Homo sapiens: one gene and its partners. The protein of the gene in region 1 purifies or fractionates together with the protein of each later gene. This does not show direct contact. Each region holds a gene or a part of one and is shown on either strand. Other genes may lie near its edges.

Region 1 (3,500 bases):
TGATGAATGCCATTTCCAAAAGGGTTGGGTAGGAGTGCCTGACATGGTACTTTCCCCTTGTCTAGGGTTATCAGGAAAGGTTTCCTATAGGAAGTGACACTTCAAGAGACTTGGAGGGTAAACGGAAGTAGTAATTCAGGATGGCAGTGGGAGATGCTTATAGTGGGACAAAGGTTTCTGGCAGAGGGAACTTCATGTTCAAAGTTCAAAGGGAAGAGTGGTGAACCTGAGGATTTGAAAGGAAGTTAGAGACAGAGCAAGAGGAGAAAGACTAGAATGAAGAATGAGGCTGGAGAGGTGGGCAGAGGCTAGAGAGTAGGCAGTTCTTTGAGCTACAGGTGTATTTTGGTCTTTATCCTAAGGCTAATGAGAACCTAGCCTGGCTTTAAAAAACTAGATGAATGGCATATGTAGGATGATATTAAAATATTATCCTGGCTGTTAAGTAGAGGAGATTGAAGGAAAGACTTGGTCAGAGTGAATGTGTAGAGACCAAGTAGCAAATAATTTTTGTCGTCTGTATGAGGGATGATGGTGCTTAGATCTAGGGTGGTGACAGAGGGTTTAGAGAGACACTAAGTTTTTTGTTTTTTTTTTTTGAGACAGAGTTTTGCTCTTGTTGCCCTTGCTGGAGTACAATGGCGCAATCTCGGCTCATTGCAACCTCCGCCTCCCAGGTTCAAGCAGTTCTCCTGCCTCAGCCTCCCTATTGTCTGGGATTACAGGTGCCCGCCACCATGCTCAGCTAACGTTTGTATTTTTTTTTTTTTTTTTGAGACAGAGTCTCACTCTGTCGCCCAGGCTGAAGTGCAGTGGCATGATCACAGCTCACTGCAGCCTCCATCTCTGGATTCAAGCGATTCTCCTGCCTCAGCCTCCCAAGTAGTTGAGATTACAGGCACCCACCACTCCCAGCTAATTTTTATATATTTAGTAGAGATAGGGTCTCACCATGCTGGCCAGGCTGATCTCTCAAACTCCTGACCTCAAATGGTCCACCCGCCTCAGCCTCCCAAAGTGCTGGGACTACAGGCGTGAGCCACCGCACCTGGCAACTTTTGTATTTTTAGTAGAGATGGGGTTTCACCATGTTGGCCAGGCTGGTCTCGAACTCCTGACCTCAGGTGATCCACCTGCCTCTGCCTCCCAAAGTTCTGGGATTACAAGCATGAGCCACCATGCCCGGCCGACACTAACTTTGAAAATTGTAATTGATAAGATTTGTTGATTGATTGGATGGGGGGATAGGGAGAAAAGGGAGTCATGAAATGACTTGAGTTTTTTTCTTGAGCAACTGGGGATGACGTTTTCAGAGAAAGAGAACACTGAATGGGAACCAGGTCTTTTTGTTTTCCGAAGGGAGGACCTTTGGACATGCTGAGTTTGAGGTTCCTGGAAGACATCTAAGATCTTTCACTCTTGCTGTCCATGTGTAGGATGTGGCATGATGGAGTAGAAGAGAGCTCTGGACGAGGCTTTCTCACACTGGACACTGCTTATTTATTAGCTGTATGATGTTGGACATATCACATTTTTTTTTCTGAGCTTTAGTTTCCTCATCTGTACAATGTATTTATTCCAATAGTTTATACTTACCCCAGCATGGAAAACAACAGTATACTCAGTTTACTTATTTGTTATAACAGTTTTCCATGCACCATGCTAGGAAAACAACATTGAATAAGATACTGTTTACTTCGGAGGAATTCACTCAGGTGAGGGAGACAAACGTAAATAATCACGTACAAAGAGGTACTTTGGCAATACTAGGCTAGGGGGTAGGGGTGATGGGTGCGGGAGGCATCCACACCTTTGATCCTAGACATGAAGGCAAGCAAAAGCGCTCCAGACTGTGTTTCCAGGCACCCAACAGAATGCCTCACACAAATTAGGGACTCTAAATGTTGGTAGAGTGAGTGAATTAACCTAAGTCACTAAGGGCCTATTCAAAAGCAGGAAATATCAACACATTGGAAGAGGACTATTAGTAATAATACAGATGCCAAATGTAAAATGCTTTTAAGAGACCCATTAAAATGTATTCTAGGCCAGGCACAGTGGCTCACGCCTGTAATCCCCACACTTTGGGTGGCTGAGGTGGGTGGATCACCTGAGGTCAGGAGTTCAAGGCCAGCGTGGCCAACATGGTGAAACCCCGTCTCTACTAAAAATACAAAATTAGGCGGGGGTGTAGTGGTGCATGCCTGTAGTCCCAGCTACTCAGGAGGCTGAGGCAGGAGAATCACTTCAACCCAGGAGGCGGAAGCTGCTGTGAGCCGAGATTGTGCCATGGCACTCTACTCTGGGCCACAGAGTGAGACTCTGTCTCAAAACAAAAAAAAGTATTCTTGACACTTTCAGCTTTTGAGATATTTTGTGATCACTTTTAGGGAAATTCAGAAATATTTCAGATCTGGTTTCTTTTTGGGCTGAACTTCCTTTATTCAAGTCAGTTTCTCAAAAAAATCATTCTAATTGCACAGAGTTCCCTGAATCAATGGGTCTCAGAGTTTTGAATTATATAGATTAGTAAAATTACAAAAAATAAAATTGAATGTACTGTGAACAATAGTTATTCTTCTGTAGTAAATTGAAAATGCCTCCTCACTTTTATCTCATAGAAAATATATTTAGCTTTATGAAAAATTCTCTACATTGGGTTTTCTCATTTTGTTGCAGAAATGAAACATCAGAATAGTGTAATAATTTAGGGAACCATTGCCCTATTTTCTTGGCTGTGGTGGAAATGTGATCCATCTCCAAATAAGGGCATTTCCAAGTATGGAGGAATTTAATATGGACCACAGTTAATTTATTTTTAGTTTTTTCCTTATAGGAAGCCAACTTTTGAGAACTACGTAGGCCTCCTCAAGATTAGCCTAACGTAGCAGTTCTTAATTCATGCCTGAAAGGTCCTCAGGAAGACCATGAACCTTTGAGATCATGTTAAATTGTATACGTATACATATTTATGTGCTGGAGTTCATACGTACATGCACATATTTTTGTATCATACGCGTGTGTCCTTGAGCAAATTACTTAATCTCTTTGAGCCTCTGTTTCTTTGTAAGGTTGTTGGGAGGTTCACATGATGAGATCATGTGTTTTAAATGTCTGACACTATGCTTGGTATAGCTGGTGCTCATGGTAGCTGTTTTTAACATTATTTATCCTTTTAAACATTTTATTTATTGGGTGGTGCTTGTTTAGTATCCACAGTGACAAAATGAGGAAAAAGATAATTTAGTGTAACTACACAACCTGATTCAATGGGAAGTACACAACATCACTGATGTAGAATTTTTGCCAGAAATGCTTAACTTAAATCTAACCATGGGGCTGGGCATAGTAGCTCACATCTGGAATCCTAGCACTTTGGGAGGCCACGGCAGGAAGATTACTTGAGCCCAGGAGTTCAAGACCACCCTGGGCAACATAGGGAGACTCTGTCTTCTCCTTTCCTTTCCTTTCCATTCCTTTCCTTTTCTCTCTTTCCTTTC
Region 2 (3,500 bases), on another chromosome or scaffold:
CACAAAAAAGATAAGCCTGAGGCAGAAGAATAGGATCTAGAGGCAAAGAACTTAAGGTTGTTTCACACAGACTTCCTACAACTACATTGAAAGGAAAACCCTAACTTTCCATGACTAAGTAACAAAAGGACCAGAGGCTGCTCCCTTTGACCTTTTCTGCATGGCAGGTGGGAAACTGGCTGTCCGGAACCACTCAGACTGATTGCTGGTGGAGTCTTAGTTTGCAGAGAAGTATAACTTTGTCTACTTTTCATTTGCATAGAAGCATAACTTTGTAACTTCACCTTAGCCTCTGAGTGGCTGCTTTCCGCAACCAATCAGACTAACTGCAGGCTACCACTTCATTTACAAGAGGTGAGCATGAAGTGGCCAATGGGAAACTTCTAGTGGGTATTTAGACCCAAGAAGATTCTGTATCCGTGCCCTTGAGCCCGCTGCTCGGCCCACTCCCACACTGTGGAGTGTACTTTCGTTTTCAATAAATCCCTGCTTTCATTATTTTGTTGCTTCCTTCTTTGTGACCTATGCAACATGATGACTAAATCCTGAGCCATTAAAGGCAGGTTCATTCATCAAGGACCAAAACGTTCATGTTCATTCAGCATTCGTGGGTCTGCTCTACCCAAGAAGTTTTCTCACTCTTCATTGGTTCTACCAAGCATAAGCAAATCAAACAACTCATTGAGAGAATGTCATCAGCCAATAAAATAAGAAACTGCTCCCAGGCCCTGAATCAGCTTATTAAAATTGACCTCTGGGACTAGCTTCTCCTAATACATAAAATTATAAAAAAGACTTAGACACAGAACCTCAAGTCTGTTCTACCAGGAAATTTTACACAAGTATTCCAGAAATCAACCAATCATTCTAACCCATTAGTGGTATTCAGTAAGATTGAAAGTATTCAATAAAATCAGAACAAAATGTCTCATACAAGATTTCTGGGCAGGGCATGGTGGCTCACGCCTGTAATCCCAGCACTTTGGGAGGCCGAGGCGGGTGGATCACGAGGTCAAGCATTCGAGACCAGCCTGGCCAACATAGTGAAACCCCGCCTCTATTAAAAATACAAAAAATTAGCCATGTGTGGTGGCGGGCGCCTGTAATCCCAACTAGTCAGGAGGCTGAGGGAGGAGAATTGCTTGAACCTGGGAGGTGGAGGCTGTGGTGAGCCGAGATTGCGCCACTGCACTCCAGCCCGGGCAACAGTGCAAGACTCTGTCTCAAAAAAAAAAAAAAATTACTGACTCAACAGATTTTACAGTTTATTTAAATATTAGTCCTAACTCAAAGGAAAAAGTAACAAATGAGTCTGCTTTATTTAAAGACTGCAAGTGAGCAGAGGCCGGAAAAAGGGCAGAGCTCACCTGGCCGGTGTCTATTGGCTGCTTCAGCAGGAAGGGTGCTGCCCTGGAACCTCCGAGCTCCACTCTTCCCACCAGTTCCACCAGGATAGTGATAGATGACAGAAGCTGAACACAATCCTTCCAGGGCAGCTGGGCATTAAGAAAACAAAAAACAAAAACCAGAAAACAAAAAACAAAAACCAGCATCATTAGTCAAGTCAGTGACCCTTCATTAGCTCAAACTGCAGTAACTAACAATGATTTAAACAGGTGGATTATTTGGAAATGCCAATTTTTCTCCCAAAACAAAGATCAAACCTAAAGATCACTAGTTTTTTGCAAATGGGAACTTGCCACCTGTCTTTCCCATGCCCATGTCCAGGCAGGCAATGCAGAACACTCTCACCACACTCAAGGTTTCCCTGCAGGGCTGACTGCACACGTAAAACAGGCCAGCCTCTGCGTTCATCCATTCACGTGGCCGGCATTCCTGCACAAACTGTGTGGCAGACTGCGCCAGGTTCTGGAGCTACAGAGATGTATAACAGAAAGTGCCCTGGATTGAAAATATTTCACAGTAATAGCACCAAAGCAAGACCAGAATGCCTTTCCAGACCATGCACCCCATAGGCATCTGCTCCTTTTGAGGTTGTAGTCCTCCCTCTTCCTCAAAAACAGCCATATTAACTCGCTACACAGTCCGTTCTTCTCTCATGACGTAACAACCTAATAATCTCCAGCTATGCCACATGCCTTAGAAGGTGTGCCACAGTATTCATCTCTATCATCTTTATCCATTAACTCAGTGCTCCTTAAACTTTTGGTCTAAAAACTCCTTGATGCTCTTAAAAATGACTTAGGATCACAAAGAGCTTTTTTTGTGATGTGGGTTACACCTGTAGATATTTACCATATTGGAAAATAAAACTGAGAAAAGGATTTAAGTATTTATGTATTAATTCCTCTTAAAATAGGCCAGACGCAGTGGCTCATGCCAGTAATCCCAGCACTTTGGGAAGCCAAGGTGGGTGGATCACTTGAGGTCAGGAGTTCAAGACCAGCCTGGCCAACATGGTGAAACCCTGACTCTACTAAAAATACAAAAATTGGCCAGGCATGATAAAACACACCTGTAGCCCCAGCTACTCGGGAGGCTGAGGCAAGAGAATCGCTTGAACCTGGGAAATGGAAGTTTCAGTGAGCTGAAATCACGCCATTGCACTCCAGCCTGGGCGACAGAGTGAGACTGACTCAAAAAAATAAAAATAAAAAATAAAATAATAAGCTTGTCATGTGTTAACAGTTTTATGAAAAATAATTGTTTTCCAAAACAAAAATAAAGTACTGGAGGAATGGCATTATTTGACATGTTCACACATTTCTTTAATATCAGAGTTAATACAAGTCAGCTGGATCTTCTATCAGCTTCTACATTCAGTCTGCTGTGATGTCAGGCCTAAGTAGCTTGTGGACAACTCCACTGTCCACTTCTGAGAGGCTGAGCATGGAAGAGGCCCACGGCACACAGCACCGTCCTTCTCTGTGTGCCCTTTAGGAGCCCTCCTCATCCAGTCCAGCGCCGCATGGGGAAGGCATATGGGCAGTACCAGTCTTTCTGGAGAAGCACCTGCTGCACATGCCCTAGTCTCAGAGCCCACTGGGAGATGCACAGATTCTCTAATTGATACAATAAGGAGTACTTAGGGAGACAATGCTCTTTCAAGAAAACCAAGTAAAACTATGTCTTTCTCAGCCTGCATAATCCTTTATCTGATTCTCTTTTCTTTTCCATCCCTAATTCTTACTCCCTTTCTTTCCCCACTTCTATTTCCCTAGCCTCTTTAAAAAACTAAATTTAAGTCCATTTTAAGTTTTATTTTGGTTTTTTCTTAAGAGACAAAGTCTCACTCTTGCTCAGGATGGAGTGCAGTGGTGCGATCGTGGCTCACTGCAGCCTTGACCTCCTGAGCCCAAGCGATCCTCCTGCCTCACCCTCACAAGTAGCTGGGACTACAGGCACAGACCACCAAGCCCAGCTAATGTCTTTTTATTTTATTTTATTTTATTTTATTTTGGTAGAAGTGAGGTCTCCCTATGTTGCTCAGGCTGGTCTCCACCCAGTTAATGTTTTTTAATTTTGTTTTGTAGAAGTGA
Region 3 (4,042 bases), on another chromosome or scaffold:
AGGGCCTCTGGGGGAGCCCGAGGACACAGAGCTGACTTAAAGGGCCAGCTGTGATCACAGCACCACCGCAGAGAGAGGAGGAGGATGCCAGGGGGCTGGGTAGACCGTCAGACCTGGAAGACCATTGTTCCACGGGACAGACTGCTGAGGGCCAGTCCTGCAGGTACTTTGCTCTTCCACAGGTCAAAGCCGTCTCACTGGCTGTCTTCTCTTTGGGGTCTCTGGGGCTCTGGCCAGTGATCAGGAGAAAGACCAGCCCTGAGGGGCAGGGCAAAGGTTGGCCAGGGTCCAGAAGGGTTAGACATCACAGTCCTCCACTGCCCACCTTCCCAGGAAAGCACCCTCAGGCTGTGGGCCTTCCCCAGAGGGGCAGTTTCTACAGGGTCTACGCAGTGGATTCTAAAGGTGATAAAGGCTGGGTGCAGTGGCTCGCGCCTGTAATCCCAGCACTTTGGGAGGCCAAAGTGGGAGGATTGCTTGAGTCCAGAGGTTCAAGACCAGCCTGAGCAAAATAGTGAAACCTTATCTCTACTAAAAAAAAAAAAAAAAAAAAAAAAAAAAATTAGCTGAACGTACGCCTGTGGTCCCGGGTACTCAGGGGGCTGAGGCAGGAAGATGAATTGAGCCCAGAAGGTTGAGACTGCTGTGAACCATGATCGCACCACTGCACTCCAGCCTGGGCGACAGACCAAGACCCTGTCTCAAAAAAAATAATTTAAAAAGCTGATAAGGGCGATCCACAAACCTGCACCAAGACTCTCAACTTGGAGCTGGGCTGGTGGTCCCTGAGTTCTGTCCTGCCGGACAGTAGAGTCCCCCTAGGTAGGGAACGTGGCCCCACACGGCGGCCGGGTGACCGACCACTGCTTACCAGGAGGGGAGACTGGCAGGGGGGGCTCAAGGAACATCTGGTGGGTGTCCCCTTCACAAGACTCGGCCTGCAGAGTTCGTGCAGGGAGTTCGCACATAGGAGAGCACCGGTCCGGGAGTGCCAGGCTCGTGCCCGGCCGGGGAGAGGAGTGGGAGACTAAGTCGCAGGGCAAGGGCAACTGCATAGTCGGGGACCTCTAGGGAATCCTGAGTCCCGGCATTCTGGGCTGGGGTGGAGCCCACTACAGCCCCGCCCCTATCTCCTCCTTTATGGCCCCGCCCAGCGGGTATCCCCCGCCCCCGCTGGCCGATCGGCGATCGATCGCAATGTCTGCGCTCTCCGCGTTCTTCCAGCGCTGTCTTTTTAGTACCACATGCGCAGGCAGGTGATGGCGGCGCTGGTCGTATCCGGGGCAGCGGAGCAGGGCGGCCGAGACGGCCCTGGCAGAGGTGGGTGCTGGAACGCTGCGCCCTCCAGACCTCGCATCTCGGGGCGGGGCCCCCAAGTTAGGGACAGGACCAACCCCCTTTAACGGCGGCGGCGCCTTTCTCCGCTAGATCCCGCTGTTAGTCGCCTTGGGCCGCTGTCACCAGCTCGGGGTCGCTGTCAGCCGGAGCCCAGGGGTACCAGTCTTTTGCAGCTTTAGGGCACGACCGAGAGCAGCCCTTAATCCTCCAATCGGAAACTACAGCCTTGTCTTGGCGGGTAGACGGATAAAATGGACTCGACGGGGAGGGAAAGGGCCAGGCCAGATGCAGCGGGCATTTTACGAGTGCGCCCTCAGGGAATGCTTTCAGGGAAGAGGCAAAAGGTTTCATTCGCCAGGCATTAACTGAGCGCCCACCGAATGCCAGGCCTGCGCTGGGTGCAGGTACTAGAATCAGAGATCTCAGTCTACTGGGGGAATGTTAATGTAAACATATCATAGCCACGTGATAAAGGAGGAGGTGCCTACTGGTCCCTGGGACACATTGAAGGGCTAATGTTAGCAGTTCCTTACACGCCAGCGACCACTAGGGACCTGTCAGAGGAGGATCTGTAATGGGCCTAGGAAGCCTAGGCTGATTGTCCAAGGCTTTTGAAACAACTGGCCAAAAACCATAGCAGTGGTAACGTTCAAATCTGATCTCAGGGCCCCAGCCTCCGCTGGACCATCCCCACCGCCGCCCACACAGTGGGTGAAGCCTCATGTCTGGGCGGGTCCCTCCTATCATAGTGTGGGGCCCTAGCAGAAGTTGTGGCACATAGCACAGTCTCAATACATATTCGTTGAATAAGTTAATTTCTTGCCTTTTCATATCCTCAGACTCTGTGGCTCCTGAAGAGATAACGGGGTTGAACTAAGCTTAATTGTCGGGGCAGGGCATAGTGGCTTACACCTTTAGTCTGAGCACTTTGGGAGGCTAAGGAGGATTGTGTGAGCCCAGGAATTCCACACCAGTCTGGGAAACATAGGGGGACCCTGTATGCACAAAAAAATAAAAAATAGCCGTGCGTGGCCGGGCACGGTGGCTTACACCTGTAATCCCAGCACTCTGGGAGGCTGAGGCGGGCGGATTACCTGAGGTCAGGAGTTTGAGACCAGCCTGGCCAACATGGTGGAAACCCTGTCTCTACTAAAAATACAAAAATTAGCCGCGTGTGGTAGCACACGCCTGTAATCCCAGCTACTCGGGAGGCTGAGGCAGGAGAATTGCTTGAGTCCGAGAGGCTGAGGTTGCAGTGAGCCGAGATTGCACCACTGCACTCCAGCCTGGCCAACAGACAGAGTGAGACTCTGTCTCAAAAAAAAAAAAAAAAAAAAAAATTAGCCCTGCGTCTTGGCACATGCCTGTGGTCCTAGCTACTGGGGAGGCTGAGGTGGGAGGATTATCGTTTGAGCCCAGGACGTCGAGGCCGCAGTGGACCATGATTGCACCCCTGCACTCCAGCCTGGGTGATGGAGTGAGACCCTGCCTTAAAAAATAATAAGATGAATTGTTTATTCAGCTTATTATTTTTTATCCTACTTAGGAGTAGGATGAGACCAGAGTAAGAGTTGCAGTTTGCTAAGGGCTACGGTTTCCCCTTTACTCCAGGAGTTGTAATTATGTGTATACCTGTCTTTTCCCCCACTAGACTGCTGGTCTCTAAGGGACAAGGTCACTTTTCTGTCCTTACTGGTACGTCCACCACCCTGACTCAAGTGTTCTTTCCATCCTTCCTGGTTTAAGAGTAAGGAGGAGCAATGGGACAGCTAAGTCAGTTAAATGTATGATGTTTATTTCCCTTTTAAATGAGGAGAGGTAAGCGTGAAAGAACGAACAGTGTGGCCACAGTCAGTGGGGTTCTGAGTCAGGAGGGCAGTCTTTTAAGTTAGTATTCATGTTTAACGGTTTGCTTATAGACCTCATATCTAGAAGCTCAAAACTTCAAGGTGTCCTCAGGAGGTGGGAGAGGGGGGACATTCTCCCAGGCTGGCTGGGCTGGCTAGACTGACTCTTAGGTTTTCCGCAGGGCTGTTCTCTATCAGGGAGCAGTATATGGACTCAGACTCATTCTTTGCCCCTTAGCCCCTGGTGTCACCTCTGTTCTCCTGAGGAAGAAGGTGAGCCATATTCTATTCATGGGCTCAAGTCTTCGATTCCCAGTGATTTCACAACATGGAAATTATACCGGTTACCTTCTGGCTTAATGAATTGTCTCTACCTTCAGGATGAATTCAGTGAGAACGAAAGCTGGGCCAACCCCCTTGGTGTCTGGATCTGGCCCTTAAACTTGGTGGAGTTAACAGCTTAGCTGGGTCTTGTTACCAAACTCAACTTGGGTCTTCCCATCCACACAAAGCAAAAGCCAAACACTGACATGGAGATTTGCAGGGAGAGAACAAGCATTTATTGTAAGGCACCAAGCAGGGAGACTGGGCAGCTAAAGCTTAAGACCTAAACTTCCTGATGGCTTACAAGCAAAGGGTTTTTATTTTATTTATTTATTTATTTTTGAGATGGTGTCTCGCTCTGTTGCCCAGGCTGGAGTGCAGCGGCGTGATCTCGGCTCACTGCAAGCTCCGCCTCCCGGGTTCACCCCATTCTCCTGCCTTAGCTGGGACTACAGGTGCCTGCCACCAGGCCCGGCTAATTTTTTGTATTTTTAGTAGAGAGTAGTATTTCCCCGTGTTAGCCAGGATGGTCT
Region 4 (3,500 bases), on another chromosome or scaffold:
GCCTGTGGGTCATTTCCTCATGGAGCCTGTGGGCAGCTGGGGTGACGCGGTGCGAAGCCAGCCGATGACATCTTGGTTTGTGTGTCTCAGTGTTTGTTCTGTGGTTTTTCGGTGCTATCTCAATGCATCTGTGGTGTGTAATCATTTCCCCCCATTTGGCAATGCCCATGCCCATTTCTTGGCACTGTCTGTAACAGCAAAGCTCCTCCCCCATGAACACACTACAGGGTGGCACTGGTCTCCGGGTGTCCATGACTGTGGACAGTGCTTTAGATCATCCTCAGCAGGTGCTTTGGGGCAACGTGCACTTACTCTGTTAAACTCCATCCCTGGGACTTGCTGTCTCCAGGGTTTATTTCATGTGTGGGGCTTGCTGTCTCCAGGGTTTATTTCATGTGTGGGGCTTGCTGCCTCCAGGGTTTATTTCATGTGTGGGGCTTGCTGTCTCCAGGGTTTATTTCATGTGTGGGACTTGCTGTCTCCAGGGTTTATTTCATGTATGGGGCTTGCTGTCTCCAGGGTTTATTTCATGTGTGGGGCTTGCTGTCTCCAGGGTTTATTTCATGTATGGGGCTTGCTGTCTCCAGGGTTTATTTCATGTATGGGGCTTGCTGTCTCCAGGGTTTATTTCATGTGTGGGACTTGCTGTCTCCAGGGTTTATTTCATGTGTGGGGCTTGCTGCCTCCAGGGTTTATTTCATGTGTGGGGCTTGCTGTCTCCAGGGTTTATTTCATGTGTGGGGCTTGCTGTCTCCAGGGTTTATTTCATGTACATGGGCAGATTCCTTTTCCCAGAGCACGGAACTTTGGTTTCTCCAAACCCCTAGCCACTGGGTGTGCTCTAGGCTTTGGGGCTTTGCAAAGGTGCAGGCTGGTTGGGAGGGAGGTATCCTTGGGCACACGTCTGGGGGATAATGGGCCGAGGGTGGGGAGATGCAGGCAGAGGGTGGAAGGCAGTGGGGGCAGTGCGGTCGAGGAACCCTGAGCTGGACCCTCTGTGAGCATGGTGTGAACGGGAAGGATGGGAGCCGGGCGTGTAGGACGTTCTGTCCTTTGAGGGAAGCCTTGTAGGACGTCAGAATCGGGGCCTCCACTTCCGTCTCCCTGTGCACAGCTTTCGGATTGGCCTCTGTCCTTCCTCAGAATCCCTCACATGCGTGGGCTGGGGAGGAGCCCCCGCTGAGGCTGCAGGCAGGGCAGGGTAATCAGGATTTGGAGTCAGGCACTGGTCCTGCGGCGTGTCCTTGGGGATGGTGGCGTAGGGGTGGGGACAGAGCCCCAACGTCCCTCCTGTCCTCATCCCAGGCACTGCCACGAGAGGAACCTGGCCGTGAACCCACAGGGGGGCAACACAGGCATGGTGGGTGGCAGCGTCCCCGTCTTTGACGAGATCATCCTCTCCACTGCCCGCATGAACCGGGTCCTCAGCTTCCACAGCGTGTCTGGTAAGCCTGTGCCACCCGTCGGGGCCCAGGAGTCCCTCCTGGTGCTGGTGGAGTTCTTCCTTGCCAGCGTCTGCAACTGTGGGGTGCTTGGGTGGGTGAATGAGTTAGGGCCGGCGCTGGGGAAAGAACCAGCGTCTGTAGCCTGGCCGCCTAGCCCCACCTCGCCCGGCCCCTCCAGACATGCGTGCTGGTGAGGGCTTGTCATTCTGGTCCCTTCCGACTCCATCCCGCTCTAGAGGTGTGTGAGGTGCAGAGTGGCATGTGTGAGGGGATCCTGACCCAGGGTGCCAGGGCGTGGCAGGCATGAGGGGATCCTGACCCAGGGCGCCAGGGCGTGGCAGGCGTGAGGGGATCCTGACCCAGGGCGCCAGGGCGTGGCAGGCGTGAGGGGATCCTGACCCAGGGCGCCAGAGCGTGGCAGGCATGAGGGGATCCTGACCCAGGGCGCCAGGGCGTGGCAGGCGTGAGGGGATCCTGACCCAGGGCGCCAGGGCGTGGCAGGCGTGAGGGGATCCTGACCCAGGGTGCCAGGGCGTGGCAGGCATGAGGGGATCCTGACCCAGGGCGCCAGGGTCCTGCTCTGGAGCTGGGCCTCTCCCCGCAAGGCCGGGCTCCAGGCCCCGGTCACTCTGTGGTCGGGCGCCTGCACTGTTGGGTGTTGAGCAGCATCCTTGGCCTCCGCCTACAAGGTGCCCATGGCACCCCCAACCCAGGCATTGTCCCACATGCCCAGGGCAGGATCAGCCCCAGCTGAGAATCTTCCCTCTTCTACTCCTTTCCACGAGTGTGTGTGGGGGTGGGAAGTTTTTTCCTCTCTTTTCATGTTACTCATTTTTTTTTTGTGTCACCATAATTATAAAGGTCCTGTGAGGCCCAGATGTTTTCGTCCTTGGGCCAGCGATGTGGGGGTGCCTCTTCTCCTCAGCCCTGGCGCTGAGGCTGATGTTCCTTCTGGGTGGCTTGCCTGTGCAAGATGGGGGTTGGGACTCACCAGCCCGGGGGCCCACTGGAAGCCAAGTGCTGCGGCAGCCTGGTCACTCTCTGCAGGAATTCTGGTTTGCCAGGCGGGCTGCGTCCTGGAGGAGCTGAGCCGGTATGTGGAGGAACGGGACTTCATCATGCCGCTGGACTTAGGAGCCAAGGGCAGCTGCCACATCGGGGGAAACGTGGCAACCAACGCTGGAGGCCTGCGGTTTCTTCGATATGGCTCACTGCATGGGACTGTCCTGGGCCTGGAAGTGGTGAGCTGGGGCAGCTGCTTGGTGCAGAGGTCGCCACGGGGTGTCCTCTCACGGCTCTCATGGGCCCACGTGGTGGCACAGGTGCATGGGGCCCCTCGGGGTGGGAGGTCTTGGTTCCTGGCCCTGGGCCCCTCAAGGATGTGTGGGCTACATACACCCCCATCCTGAGGGAGGCCTGGCCCTGCCCTGTCCTCCCACGAGAGGGTGATTTTGTGTCCACTGCCTCGGGGCCACACAGAGAGGATGCAGTTACAGGGGACACCGCCCCGGCAGTGGTGGGCTTCTGGGAGCCGGGTGTGAAGGAAGGCTCATCCAGGGTCAGCTTCGTGACCTTCTGCTGCCCACTGTTCCTCCAGGGCCCCTCTGTTTACCCGCACCCTCACCAGCCGAGTGTCACAGGCAGAGCTCTCTGTCCTGTTTACCCAAGTGGACGAAGCAAACACAAAACCATGCTTTGGTGCCATCCAGTAAATTATGACGCTTCAGTAGCTTTTTTTTCTGGCCAGCCACTGATTATCTTTATTGTAAATTACTTTTTTGCACTCATGAGCTGTGTAGGCCTCCGACTCACAGTACCAGCACACAGGACTCGGAGAGGCCCACAGCTCGGGAGCTTTGATGCCTTATGGCTGGTGGGTCCAGAGGTGGCTGGGTCCTGGGCTGGGCTCACGCCCTACTCCCAGGGAGCCTCCCCACTGCCCCCGACCCCGGGCGTGCCCCCTGGGCAGTGAGCTGCTGTGTGTGGAGGGTGTCACTCGTACAGGAGGAAAGTCCATCCTTCAGCCTCTTGGCATGACCTCAGGCTGCTGCAGAA

The links. The genes of interacting proteins can lie anywhere in the genome.
Region 2: the proteins of RAB30 (region 1) and TRAPPC9 purify together in Homo sapiens (affinity purification with mass spectrometry; 2 studies listed by BioGRID and IntAct, with this or other methods). This does not show direct contact.
Region 3: the proteins of RAB30 (region 1) and DPH1 purify together in Homo sapiens (affinity purification with mass spectrometry; 2 studies listed by BioGRID and IntAct, with this or other methods). This does not show direct contact.
Region 4: the proteins of RAB30 (region 1) and D2HGDH purify together in Homo sapiens (affinity purification with mass spectrometry; 2 studies listed by BioGRID and IntAct, with this or other methods). This does not show direct contact.

Annotation. Positions count from the first base shown.
Region 1 is NC_000011.10:83,065,398-83,068,897, reverse strand, and holds part of RAB30 (ras-related protein Rab-30), read left to right. Parts: intron 1-3,500. UniProt on the Homo sapiens protein: The small GTPases Rab are key regulators of intracellular membrane trafficking, from the formation of transport vesicles to their fusion with membranes.
Region 2 is NC_000008.11:140,433,745-140,437,244, forward strand, and holds part of TRAPPC9 (trafficking protein particle complex subunit 9), read right to left. Parts: intron 1,497-3,500; coding exon 1,368-1,496; intron 1-1,367. UniProt on the Homo sapiens protein: Functions as an activator of NF-kappa-B through increased phosphorylation of the IKK complex. May function in neuronal cells differentiation. May play a role in vesicular transport from endoplasmic reticulum to Golgi.
Region 3 is NC_000017.11:2,028,911-2,032,952, forward strand, and holds the start of DPH1 (2-(3-amino-3-carboxypropyl)histidine synthase subunit 1), read left to right. Parts: upstream 1-1,242; 5' UTR 1,243-1,244; coding exon of another isoform or gene 1,245-1,259; coding exon 1,260-1,320; intron 1,321-4,042. UniProt on the Homo sapiens protein: Catalyzes the first step of diphthamide biosynthesis, a post-translational modification of histidine which occurs in elongation factor 2.
Region 4 is NC_000002.12:241,741,130-241,744,629, forward strand, and holds part of D2HGDH (D-2-hydroxyglutarate dehydrogenase, mitochondrial isoform 1 precursor), read left to right. Parts: intron 1-1,305; coding exon 1,306-1,445; intron 1,446-2,492; coding exon 2,493-2,686; intron 2,687-3,500.